3 linked regions of the Homo sapiens genome follow. The protein of the gene in region 1 purifies or fractionates together with the protein of each later gene. This does not show direct contact. Each region holds a gene or a part of one and is shown on either strand. Other genes may lie near its edges. The genes, in order: GART, CARS1 and RO60.

Region 1 (3,651 bases):
TTAATAAGTAGTTCATTCATCATCCTTTTCAAATAGTTAAAAAACAGTGGCCTGCTGATGAATGGGGAAAGGAGGCAGGACTGATTTGTGCATTTGCCAGTTTTTGTGGTATAAATACTCCCATCATAGCTGCTTTAAAAATGGCTGTTTAACAGTCTCTACAAGCTGGCTCTAGCACACCACTAGTTAAAAACAACATAGTAGTCACCTCATTAAGAAACTGAAAGTGATATAGCCATATTCCTGAAAGCAGTTATAGTTTGAGTTACACAAATGTCTGTATTCCAATAAAAGCCATTGCACAATTCCTTGCATCAGCCTCTAAAGTTTCTTCCAGGAATCATACTTTGACAACAGATTTAAGTAAGGACTTCTGGGGGTTTTTTTGTTTGTTTTTTATTGAGACAGAGTATCACTCTGTCGCCCCAACTGGAGTTCCGTGGTGCGATCACAGCTCACTATTGCCCCAACGTCCTGGGTTCAAGTGATTCTCCGACCTCAGCCTCCTAAGTAGCTGGGACCACAGGTAACACGCCACCACACTTAGCTATTTTTTGTATTTTTAGTAGAGACGGGGTTTCACCACATTGCCCAGGCTGATCTTAAACTCCTTGGCTCAGAGCAATCTGCCCATCTCAGCCTCCCAAAGCGCTGGGATTACTGGCATGAGCTACCACACCTGGCCAGGACTTTTCAACATTAAAATTACAACTTACATTATTCATGAAGTACTTGTTCATTTATAGAAGCTAGACTCTTAGTCTGCCAGTGTTTTTTCCTATAAATATTTTGTAAAACTTCACTAAAACAAGATCATAATTTGGTAATCTGCTACTTGCCCTGCCATTAAATATGTCATCACTATCTCCTTGTCTTAGTAGCATCATTTTTGATAACAAGTATTCCATTTTACAGATGTACCACTATTTAGTTTTAAGTTGCTATTTACTTTTAACTATTGAGAGCATAGTGAACAATGTAGTTACTAAATCTGAGGTCAACTATTAAGAATGGACATTTCCCAGCTACTATAAATGGAATTGAATCTAAGAGTCATAGACATGTGATTCATTTTTATTTTTATTTATTTTTATTTTTTTAGACAGAGTCTCACCCTGTCGCCCAGGCTGGAGTACAGTAGTGCGATCTCAGCTCACTGCAACCTCCACCTCCCGGGTTCAAGTGATTCTCCTGCCTCAGCCTCCCGAGTAGCTGGGATTACAGATGTGCGTCTCCACGCCCAGCTAATTTTTGTATTTTCAGTAGAGATGGGGTTTCATCATGTTGGCCAGGCTGGTGTCGAACTCCTGACTTCGTGATCTGCGGGCCTCGGCCTCCTAAAGTGCTGAGATTACAGGCCTGAGCCACTGCACCCGCCTCATTTTTAAAATTGTATCAACTTCAGGCTGGGCATGGTGGCTCACCCCTGTAATTCCAGCACTTCGGGAGGCTGAGGTGGATGGATCCCCTGAGGTCAGGAGTTCAAGACCAGCCTGGCCAGCATGATGAAACCCTGTCTCTACTAAAAATACACACACACACACACACACACACACACACACAGAGACACACACACACACACACAAATAACCAAGTGTGGTAGCACATGCCTATAATCCCAGCTACTCGGGAGGCTGAGGCATGAGAATAGCTTGAACCCAGGAGGCGGAGGTTGCAGTGAGTCGAGATCACGCCATTGCACTCCAGCCTAAACGACAGAGAGATACTCTGTCTCAAAAAAAAAAAAATTGTATCAACTCCAAAGTATTAAAAAACTGATTATCAGCTGAGCATGATGGCTCATGCCTATAATCCCAGCGCTTTGGGAGGCTGAGGCAGAAGAAGCCCAGGAGGTCAAAACTAGACTGGGCAACATGGTAAGACCCTGTCTCTCCAAAAAAAAAATTTTTTAAATAGCCAGGCATGGTGTCGCATGCCTGTAGTCCCAGCTACTCAGGAGGATGAAGTGAGAAGATCACTTGAGCCTGGGACATCAAGGCTACAGTGAGCCGTGTTCATGCCACTGCACTCCAGCCTGGGCAACAGAGCCAGATCCTGTCTCAAAGAAAAAAAAAATTATCCAATAAATAAATCAAATAAATAGGCAGAACTGATAGTAAACCTTATTATTTAATAAAAAGCTGAGTTCACATTGGCTTCCCTTTCTTAAGAGCATCATAAATAATTTAATTCAGTATAGTTTTTTTAAAAAATCAGATCCCATAATCGTAGATTCCAAAGAACTATCCAGATTCTTTTTAAATTCAGAAATGTTGTGTGTGTGTATATAGACCTTTACCTAAAAATTTTTATTAGAGATTTTTGTTGTATTATTTGTGATAAGAGAGAATGTATTCTTTTTTTTTTTTTTTTTTTTTTCAATTTGAGTCGGAGTCTCACTCTGTCCACCAGGCTAGAGTGCAGTGGTACCATCTCGGCCCACTGCAACCTCCACCTCCCAGGTTTAAGTGATTCTCCTGCCTCAGCCTCCCGAGTAGCTGGGACTACAGGTGTGCGCCACCACGCCCAGCTAATTATTGTATTTTTAGTAGAGAATGGGTTTCACCATCTTGGCCAGGGTGGTCTCGATCTCCTGACCTCGTGATCCGCCCACCTCAGCCTCTCAAAGTGTTGGGATTACAGGCATGTAATCCAAAGTGTTGGGATTCTCACGCCCGGCCGAGAGAATGTATTCTTATAGCAGACCTAGGAAGTCTAAATTTTAAAAAGAATGAGAGGGAGAGGGTGTTGATCCGCCTTCCATTAACATAACTTTTCTTGAGGAGTGTATGCATTTTCTCTAAATATGTAGATAAGCCATCTAGTTTTGCATTGTACTTTGGGTGCATTTTGGTCATCACAAAGACTCAGCCAAACATTCACAAAAGGATGGTATACTGGCCTTTGCTGGAATTCAGCTACTAGCTCATCTGATCCATTAGGGAATGTCTAAGGGTCTAGTTAGTTAATGTAGCACAAAACCTCACTCATTTGTGAGTACTGGCCAAGTGTGTCAACAAAAAAATGTTCTTAATGTCTAAGGTACAAATGGATCCCCAAATAAAAAGTTCTCAGAGGCCAATTTATAGTTTTACCCTACATAAAATAGCAGAGCCTGATTATAATTTCCACATCTTTGAATATGTGCATACTTTTGTACTTTGTGTGAGAAGGTAGGAAAATCAAACAATTCGTGTCTATTTTTTTCAGATGCCCAGACCTGGAGGATCCCCAGGGTCTTCTCATGGTTGCAGCAGGAAGGACACCTCTCTGAGGAAGAGATGGCCAGAACATTTAACTGTGGGGTTGGCGCTGTCCTTGTGGTATCAAAGGAGCAGACAGAGCAGATTCTGAGGGATATCCAGCAGCACAAGGAAGAAGCCTGGGTGATTGGCAGTGTGGTTGCACGAGCTGAAGGTACTTGCTCCTTACTCATTTTTAGATATATAATTTTAGCTGTATAATTTTAGCTATACCTCAGCCTTGCCTCACAAGCTTTCTGCCCACCTTTTAGTGCAGCCATCGCTATGGCAACTATCTTTACACAGATGTAACATGACAGCACCCACCCCAGCGATACCACGTATCTCTTCATTTCTGCCTCAGAACTAAGCATTCATGCATGCACAGCCACACCCCACAGGATCGCTT
Region 2 (3,651 bases), on another chromosome or scaffold:
AAAAAAAAAAAAAAAAAAGTTCAATGCCAATTAATACTTTAGGATTCAACAATTCTAAAGCTGGAGGATAGACACGCTACAATCTTATGGAAGAAATAAAGAGAAAGAACTGAGTCAACCAGAGCCAGGCACAGCCTTAGCTAAAAATCACAAGGCTAGGGCCCGTGGCCTGGGCATGCTACGTGGAACCCCAGAGCCGCAGCGGCTCTGCACCCCACCACCTCAGGCAATCCTGCCACACCAGTGATGTGAACATACTGCTCCTGAATAACCAACTCCATAGGGCGTGATTTTATCCCAACCTCCATCCAGCAAGCGCTGCATCTGCCCATCCAGGCCACTTGCTCGAGACACACTTGGGCGAGGCTCCCTCTGGGGTATCCGCAGACGCCAGGTAAGCACCAGGGTGATGGAGAAAGCCCTTGACCTTGGGAGAGAGGTTCTAATGGCCAGGGAACCCACTCTGTTACTCACTTGCTTGGAGCCTGCAGGGCTGGCCTTTGCCACAGGGGCTACCCAGGAGCGCTTCTATGTGCCTGAACCACCGAGCCACGTGGAAGAGCTGGGGGTCAGCGGGCGGGGCCGAGAGCTGCCTGAACGCGTCCACGTCTGCCTGGGACAGTGAGTACCCCTGGACATAGCTACGCGTGCTGAGGTGCTCGTTCAGGGCTTGTGCCCTGGCTGCCTCGTCACTAATGCTCAGAATGGACCTGTAGTCAGGAGCTGCAAAGACAGAGGGCACATGGTGTCAGGCAGGCAGGCGGGCAGCCCAGAGGCCGCCAGAAAGACAGGGACTAGGGGATGGCACAGAACCAAGGAAAAAGGTGTTCAAGCCCTTCCCTGGACGCCAAACATCCAGAACAGGCAAAGGCACAGGGGCAGCGCTTCGACTGGGGGCGAGGGAGTGACTGCCTGACAGGTATGGATGGGTTCCCTCTTGGGTGATGAAAATGCTTTGGAACTAGACAGAAATGAAGGCTGCATGACAACATCATGCGCCAAATACCACAGAATTGTGTACTTTTCACTTTATGTCATATAAATTACTTAGTTTTTACATTTTTAATTTATGTTTTCTATCAGGGAAAGCAGGAACACAGTTCCACACCATCACAAATTACACAGTTCAGTTTCTGACATTTGGGGAAATCATAGGGGTCAGCACATCTGGAGTATAACGGATAAGCCTCGCCTTGGGAAAGCTACCTACATGATCATGGTATCCCTCCTGTCAGCTAAGTATGTTACGAGAATTTAACCTCAATTTTTAAAAACTCACAACAGAAATCCCCCAAACCAAACCAACTTCAAGCCTCTTTGCCGCAGCGGCACCCTCTCCCTCTGGGTGCTGGGGGATGAGGGGTAGGAGAACCCCACATTGACAATGTGTGCCATTTACACCCCTGCACCAAGAGACAGCTGGACTCTAGCATGGCTTCTGCAGGTCAAGGCCACAGCCTCAGGAGGACTGGGCCCCCTCAAAGGACCAGCCCAAGAAAGCACAGGGCTGCCAGGAAAATGTGGCTGCTCCAGCCAGCCTCACCTGGCCCCTGGCCCCTGGCCCCAGGCCCCAGCCTCCCTCCTTAGAGCCTTCAAAGCAGTAAGCGTGCACCTCCACCACTCAGGTGTGTCACTCAAGGACCCAAGAGCCACTGTTCCGCATGTCACCATTGGGAGGAGGAGCAGAACCCTAACTTTCACCACTGCCAGCTGTAGACAAGGCCGCCTTGACACATGCACGCTGACCAGCTCCATGGCTTTTTTCATTTGAGCCCCTGCTCACCCTCCTTCTCCTCCTCCATTCTCCCTTTTTTATTTTTATTTATTTATTTATTTATTTATTTTTATTTTTTAGAGACAGCGTCTGACTCTACTGCCCAGGCTGGAGTGCAGTGGTGCAATCAAGGCTCATCACAGCCTCAAAATGCTGGGCTCAAGTGACCCTCCAGCCTAAGCCTCCTGAGTAGCTGGGACTACAGGCACATGCCACCAGGCCCAGCTAATCATACTCCCTTTAAATCCAAAAGTCACCTCTGCTGAACTGGCAGGGAACGCAGCTCCTTCCCCTACTGTCAGGAATTAGGGAATAAAATCTGTCTCACCATTCTAAGGAATATCTCCCTGCAATTACCTCTGACACGGGAGTTGTGGACCAGGTGCTGTGTCCACAGCCCACGTCCCTAAAGTGGGGGCAGACCAGGCAGATGGTGCCAGGCTTCTGGCCAGAGGAGGGAGTCTGGTCCCTGAGCCCATGAGCACAGGTGCATCCAAACCTTGAACCAGTGATTGTGTTTGCTGAGAGGACTGTGGGAAAAGGACCGATGCTTGCTCCTTCCAGACAGATACCCTCTCACCCCAGAGTTCACTCAGGGTAGGAATGCACATGTCTGGCCACCCCTTGCTGTGCCAGCTGCCCTTCCTGGGCACAGGCTGCCCGACATCACAGCCATGGGGCGTGGATGCCCTGCACATCACAGTCCCCCTCTCTGCCTTCTCCCATTCCCTTTTGTCCCCCATCTCCGTGTTTACTCCTGGCACAGAGCCAGAGTCACCCCAACCAAGCCCACACAGCTTCTGAAAACAGAGAGCAGAGTGTGTTGCGGGGGTAACTGCACACGAATGCCTTTCTCTGCTTTGCTTAGTGTGGGGAAAGCCCTTCGTGTCAGGCCAATAACTGGCACTTCCCGGAACGCTGTGGTGTCAGCAAAGATGAGTCAGAATGGAGTGCACAGCTGCAGCAGCAAGAATGCCCCACTGGGCCGAGCTCTTCACCCGCCAGGGAGCCTACGGAGCCACGTGATGCCCCAAGGCCCAGCCTCCGTGGCTGCCGGAGAAGATGTCCTGAAGCCACCTCTTCTCTGCAGTAAAGGGGTGGGCACTCTGTGGGAGAGCCTTCCTGAAGTCTCAACATGGATGCAGGGCTTAAAATGGCTTCCTGGGATGACTCTCGCTGGTGGGATGACGAGTGCAGCGTCCCTCTAACTTGCCCTGCTTCCTTCCCACTGCACGGAGCCACTGTCCCATCTGACCCCAATAAGATGGCCACCCACTCCAAGCAGCCACAGGCACCCAGAAGCAAAGCTCTGGGCACACTCCCTAGCCAAAACTGGAATCACACCCCTTTACAAGTTATCCTTAGGAGCACCCATAGCCAACCCACGGGAGGATCCGGGGCCTCTAACTCAAAAGAAGCTTTGGACTTGAGAGCCAGCCCTTGTCACCTGGATTCCTGCAAGCCAGACACCGCCACCTGTAGCCAGCATGGCTCTCCCCTCACAGCCACAGGCCTCCAGCGGCCCTGCTGAAAAGCGCACGTTCACATTACTGCCCCCAACACCCACCTCGCCAGCAGCACAAGCCTGTCCTCATGCTGGCCATGGGCCCCCACCTGACTCACAATACCCTAGTCACATGGCCCCTCCACCTGCTGCTCTTTTTTTAGGGGGCATGCTCCCCAGATACCAGCAGGCCCCTTAATCCTTCACAGCTCTGCTAGGTGCCGGCTTCCCCACCAGGTCTTCAAGGACTCCCTGTCCATATGGCGCCCGCCTCTAGACCCTGAGCCTGGCTGCTCTTTCTCTCCGCAGCACCCCTGTCTAACACGTGCCCGCATTTCTTTCCTTCACCATCTGCCCCACCGCTCCATCTACC
Region 3 (3,651 bases), on another chromosome or scaffold:
TGGAAGGTTTAAGATGTGACAATCTTAATAGATCTTTGTGAGACCAGCCATTTCTCTGTTTATATTTTGTAACTGCCAGAGCAAGGGCCATGCCACCTTTCTCATTGTACCAGTCCGCTATAGCCTTCCGGAGGGCACGACCCCACATGCCACATTTCATGCTTTCCTTCAGATCTTTCTTAAACTGGATAAAAGTAAAGAGATGGGTAGGAATGCGACAAACTTCAGAAACAGCTTTAAATGCTGCTTGTTTTGTGCTTATGTCGGAGCACTGGGAACAAATGGCAAGTGCAAAGAGCATAGGCTCTTGCTTTGTGGTTCTGCCTTCTTGACTAAATGACTTTATTTCTTGTATCACTTCACATCCTCTGCCATCTTCAATCAATCTAATTAAAGCTTCAGCATTTTCAAGGCCCAACTTCTGTTCTTTGATATAATAAGTCCCACCTTCAGAACCGAAACATAAGAACCGGTGTAGTCGATTCATGTCAGTGACTTGCCATACATATCCATCCTGAGAATTGGCTATCTGCTTCTCATTCAGTGGCTGCATTTGGTTTACAGATTCCTCCATTTTTTTTTGTCTTTAGGAAACCTAACAAAAAGGCAAAATGTTATTACAACTAGATGGGCACAATAAAATTACAAAAGGAAAACAAAATGTAGGTTTACTGAAATGTTATTAACTCTTTTAATTTAAAAACATCTTTTAAGTTCCATAGTTTTTCCCTTAGTACAAAATCAATATAAATGTCCTGAAGAAAAATCAGGAAAGGCAGAAAATGAAAGAAAAAAACCATATCTGAATACTTTGAAATGACTACCAGTAATATCTTCAGTTTTTAAAGTGTTTTTGTTTTGTATTCCTATTTTTATAATCTAAAGAAACTAAAAGCCCTTCACAGCAAACAAACAAATCATAGCCACAGTGGTGTGATAATCAGAAGCAACTAAGGCGTCACATTTTTGAGATACAGTGTGCTCCTTCAGAGATTAAGCAGGTAGATCAGTATGGCATCTTGAGGCCCACACAGAGAATAAAAGAAGGGAGGGCAGCAATAGTAGCTGGCACTAAGTAAGAAAGATCATACTCCCTGAAGAATTGTGTAAACATGTTTGGTTGCCTATCTAACATTCATTCTTCCCCCTTCTCTCTTCTCCTCTTCTTGGCCTCATATCCTTCAAAGGAGGCTAGGCCTTTCCCTAGCCCCAAGGGATGGATCTTTATTGCTCTAAGCCAGTGGTTCTCAAACTCAATGTACATCAAAATTACTTGAATTACTAATTGAAACATAGATTGGTGGGTCAGCCCTCTCAGGCACTGCCCTGAGTTTCTTTCATAATTTAGTAGGTCTGCAGTGAGGCCTAAGCATGTATACTTATCACAAGTTCCCAGCTGCTGCTGCTGCTTGACCCAGGCCCAATAATCATGGTGCTCTCCTTGCCACATGACTGGTATAGGGAGTTGGGCATGTGTCATGACTGGCCAGTATGACATGATAAGTCAGCTGAGAACACTTTTGAGGTTTTCTTCAGTCTTAAAAGGGGGCTCAGGCTCTTAAAAAGAAATGTTCCCTTTTCTGCCTTCTGACATTTTCATTTGCAAGTGATGCCTGGAGTGGTAACAACCATCTTCAGACCTTGAGATAAGCCAGTTTAAGATGGCACACCAATATATAAAGAGAGCAGAACAGAAAAAACAAAGAACCTGGGTCCTTGATATCGGGTTACCTGAAACTGCCCTGCTTATACACTTCCTATTATGTCATAAATGTATCCTTATTGTTTAAGCCATTTTTAGGTTTACGGTTTTATGTCATCTGTAACTACCCTCACTCTACTCCTTCCATTAGCTCTAAAACTCCTAGAACTAGCTGTCTGGAAACAACATCCCTCTTTATCCTTCTAATGGAGGAACCACAATTGTCACTTCTTCATCAGTCCACCACTATTGTTACTACAGTATCACTGTTTATTGAGGTCCTTCAATCTGTCATGTTATTTCGGTGCACTGGGCTTCTGTCCATGGCTAACAAAACAGCACAACCAACAAAAACTTAAACCAGCATTTACTGAATACATACTATGTGTAAGACATGAAGACAATTTCTCTCCCATTAAAGAGACTAAAAAAAAAAAATTTGGGCCGGGCACAGTGGCTCACGCCTGTAATCCCAGCACTTTGGGAGGCCGAGACGGGCGGATCACGAGGTCAGATCAAGACCATTCTGACTAAAATGGTGAAACCCCGTCTCTACTAAAAATACAAAAAATTAGCCGGGCGTGTTGGCAGGCGCTGTAGTCCCAGCTACTCAGGAGGGAGGCTGAGGCAGGAGAATGGCGTGAACCCGGGAGGCGGAGCTTGCAGTGAGCCAAGATCCTGCCACTGCACTCCAGCCTGGGGGACAGAGCGAGACTCTGTCTCAAAAAAAAAAAAAAAAAAAGAAAGAAAAAAAATTTTTTTTTCTCCTCATCACAGGAAAATCACACTCATTTGTGGGGATAGAATCACAATGCAAACTGTAGTTAAGTGCTGTAGTAGAAAAGTATTATGAGTGAGCAAGGGAGTATAAAATAATATTGTCTCAATAATCCAGAAAGATTTGTGCAGAGAAGGCAAATTGTGATTAAGTGCTGTAGTGGAAAAGTGAGTGAGCAAGGAAGTATAAAATAATACTGTCTAAATAATCCAGAAGGATTTGAGCAGAGAAGGCAAACTAAAAAACTGATAAAGTTTAGGGAAGGCGCTCCAGGAAGAGGTTTCTGAAATCTCGATCTGTCTTTATATTCTAGAAAAGAAACTGTCTAAGCATCCTGTAGAGCCATAAAGACATGTTGACAGATACGGTCATAACTTAAAGAGGAACACAAGATAAAAGAAGTTTTGTTCTGAAGATCATGCTTACTTGAACATGTTTATATATTACAAGGAAGGCTAAGGATAGAATCTTGGTGAATATTAACCATTAAAAGCTAATGAGAGAAAGGCCTTTTAAAGAGAGACGGAAAAGGAGGTGCACAGAGTTGAAGAAAACCGACAGAGAATAGTATCATGGACTACAAGGAAGAGAACTTCAAGGAGTGAATGGTTGGTAATTTCAAATGGTCAGAGGAAAAGTAAATAAAAGGCTAGAAAATGACCACTGGGTTTAGCAAGTAGGAGTGACTAGTGAGAGCAACTGCAGTAGAGTGGTATAAGAAGTAGCTTGATTACAGTGAGATCAGGAGAATATGCAGTGAGGAAGAAACTTCACAGCTAGACTACTCTTTTGTAGACACATACTTATAAACTATGAAGGAAAGTAAAAGAGGATGGGACTTAGAGAAAAAATCTTTTTACCTTTTTCAATGGGAAGATGCTAACATTGAAAGATTCAATTTGGAGAGCTGAAGATACAGTAGAGAAGGGGGATAACTGAAGGAATTTCTTAAAGAAATGAGAATGAGCTTAGAGCATCCAGGTTGAGACTGGCCTACTGACAGCAAGAGATATTTCCTTTATCTTTTAAGGGTAAAGAGTATAGGTAAAGATAGATTTGAAGGAATGAGGGATAAGGAAACTGAAGACATTCCCCCCTGACAGGAGATGTAGAATGCCAAATGGTATGTGGAGAAGTTTGGTAGAGAGGGGAGGAATGAAAGACTGGGTCT

Evidence for each region.
Region 2: the proteins of GART (region 1) and CARS1 fractionate together in Homo sapiens (co-fractionation; one large-scale study listed by BioGRID). This does not show direct contact.
Region 3: the proteins of GART (region 1) and RO60 fractionate together in Homo sapiens (co-fractionation; one large-scale study listed by BioGRID). This does not show direct contact.

What each region holds. Positions count from the first base shown.
Region 1 is NC_000021.9:33,511,018-33,514,668, reverse strand, and holds part of GART (trifunctional purine biosynthetic protein adenosine-3), read left to right. Parts: intron 1-3,210; coding exon 3,211-3,417; intron 3,418-3,651. UniProt on the Homo sapiens protein: Trifunctional enzyme that catalyzes three distinct reactions as part of the 'de novo' inosine monophosphate biosynthetic pathway.
Region 2 is NC_000011.10:3,047,279-3,050,929, forward strand, and holds part of CARS1 (cysteine--tRNA ligase, cytoplasmic), read right to left. Parts: intron 724-3,651; coding exon 475-723; intron 1-474. UniProt on the Homo sapiens protein: Catalyzes the ATP-dependent ligation of cysteine to tRNA(Cys).
Region 3 is NC_000001.11:193,065,978-193,069,628, reverse strand, and holds part of RO60 (RNA-binding protein RO60), read right to left. Parts: intron 596-3,651; 5' UTR 575-595; coding exon 1-574. UniProt on the Homo sapiens protein: RNA-binding protein that binds to misfolded non-coding RNAs, pre-5S rRNA, and several small cytoplasmic RNA molecules known as Y RNAs.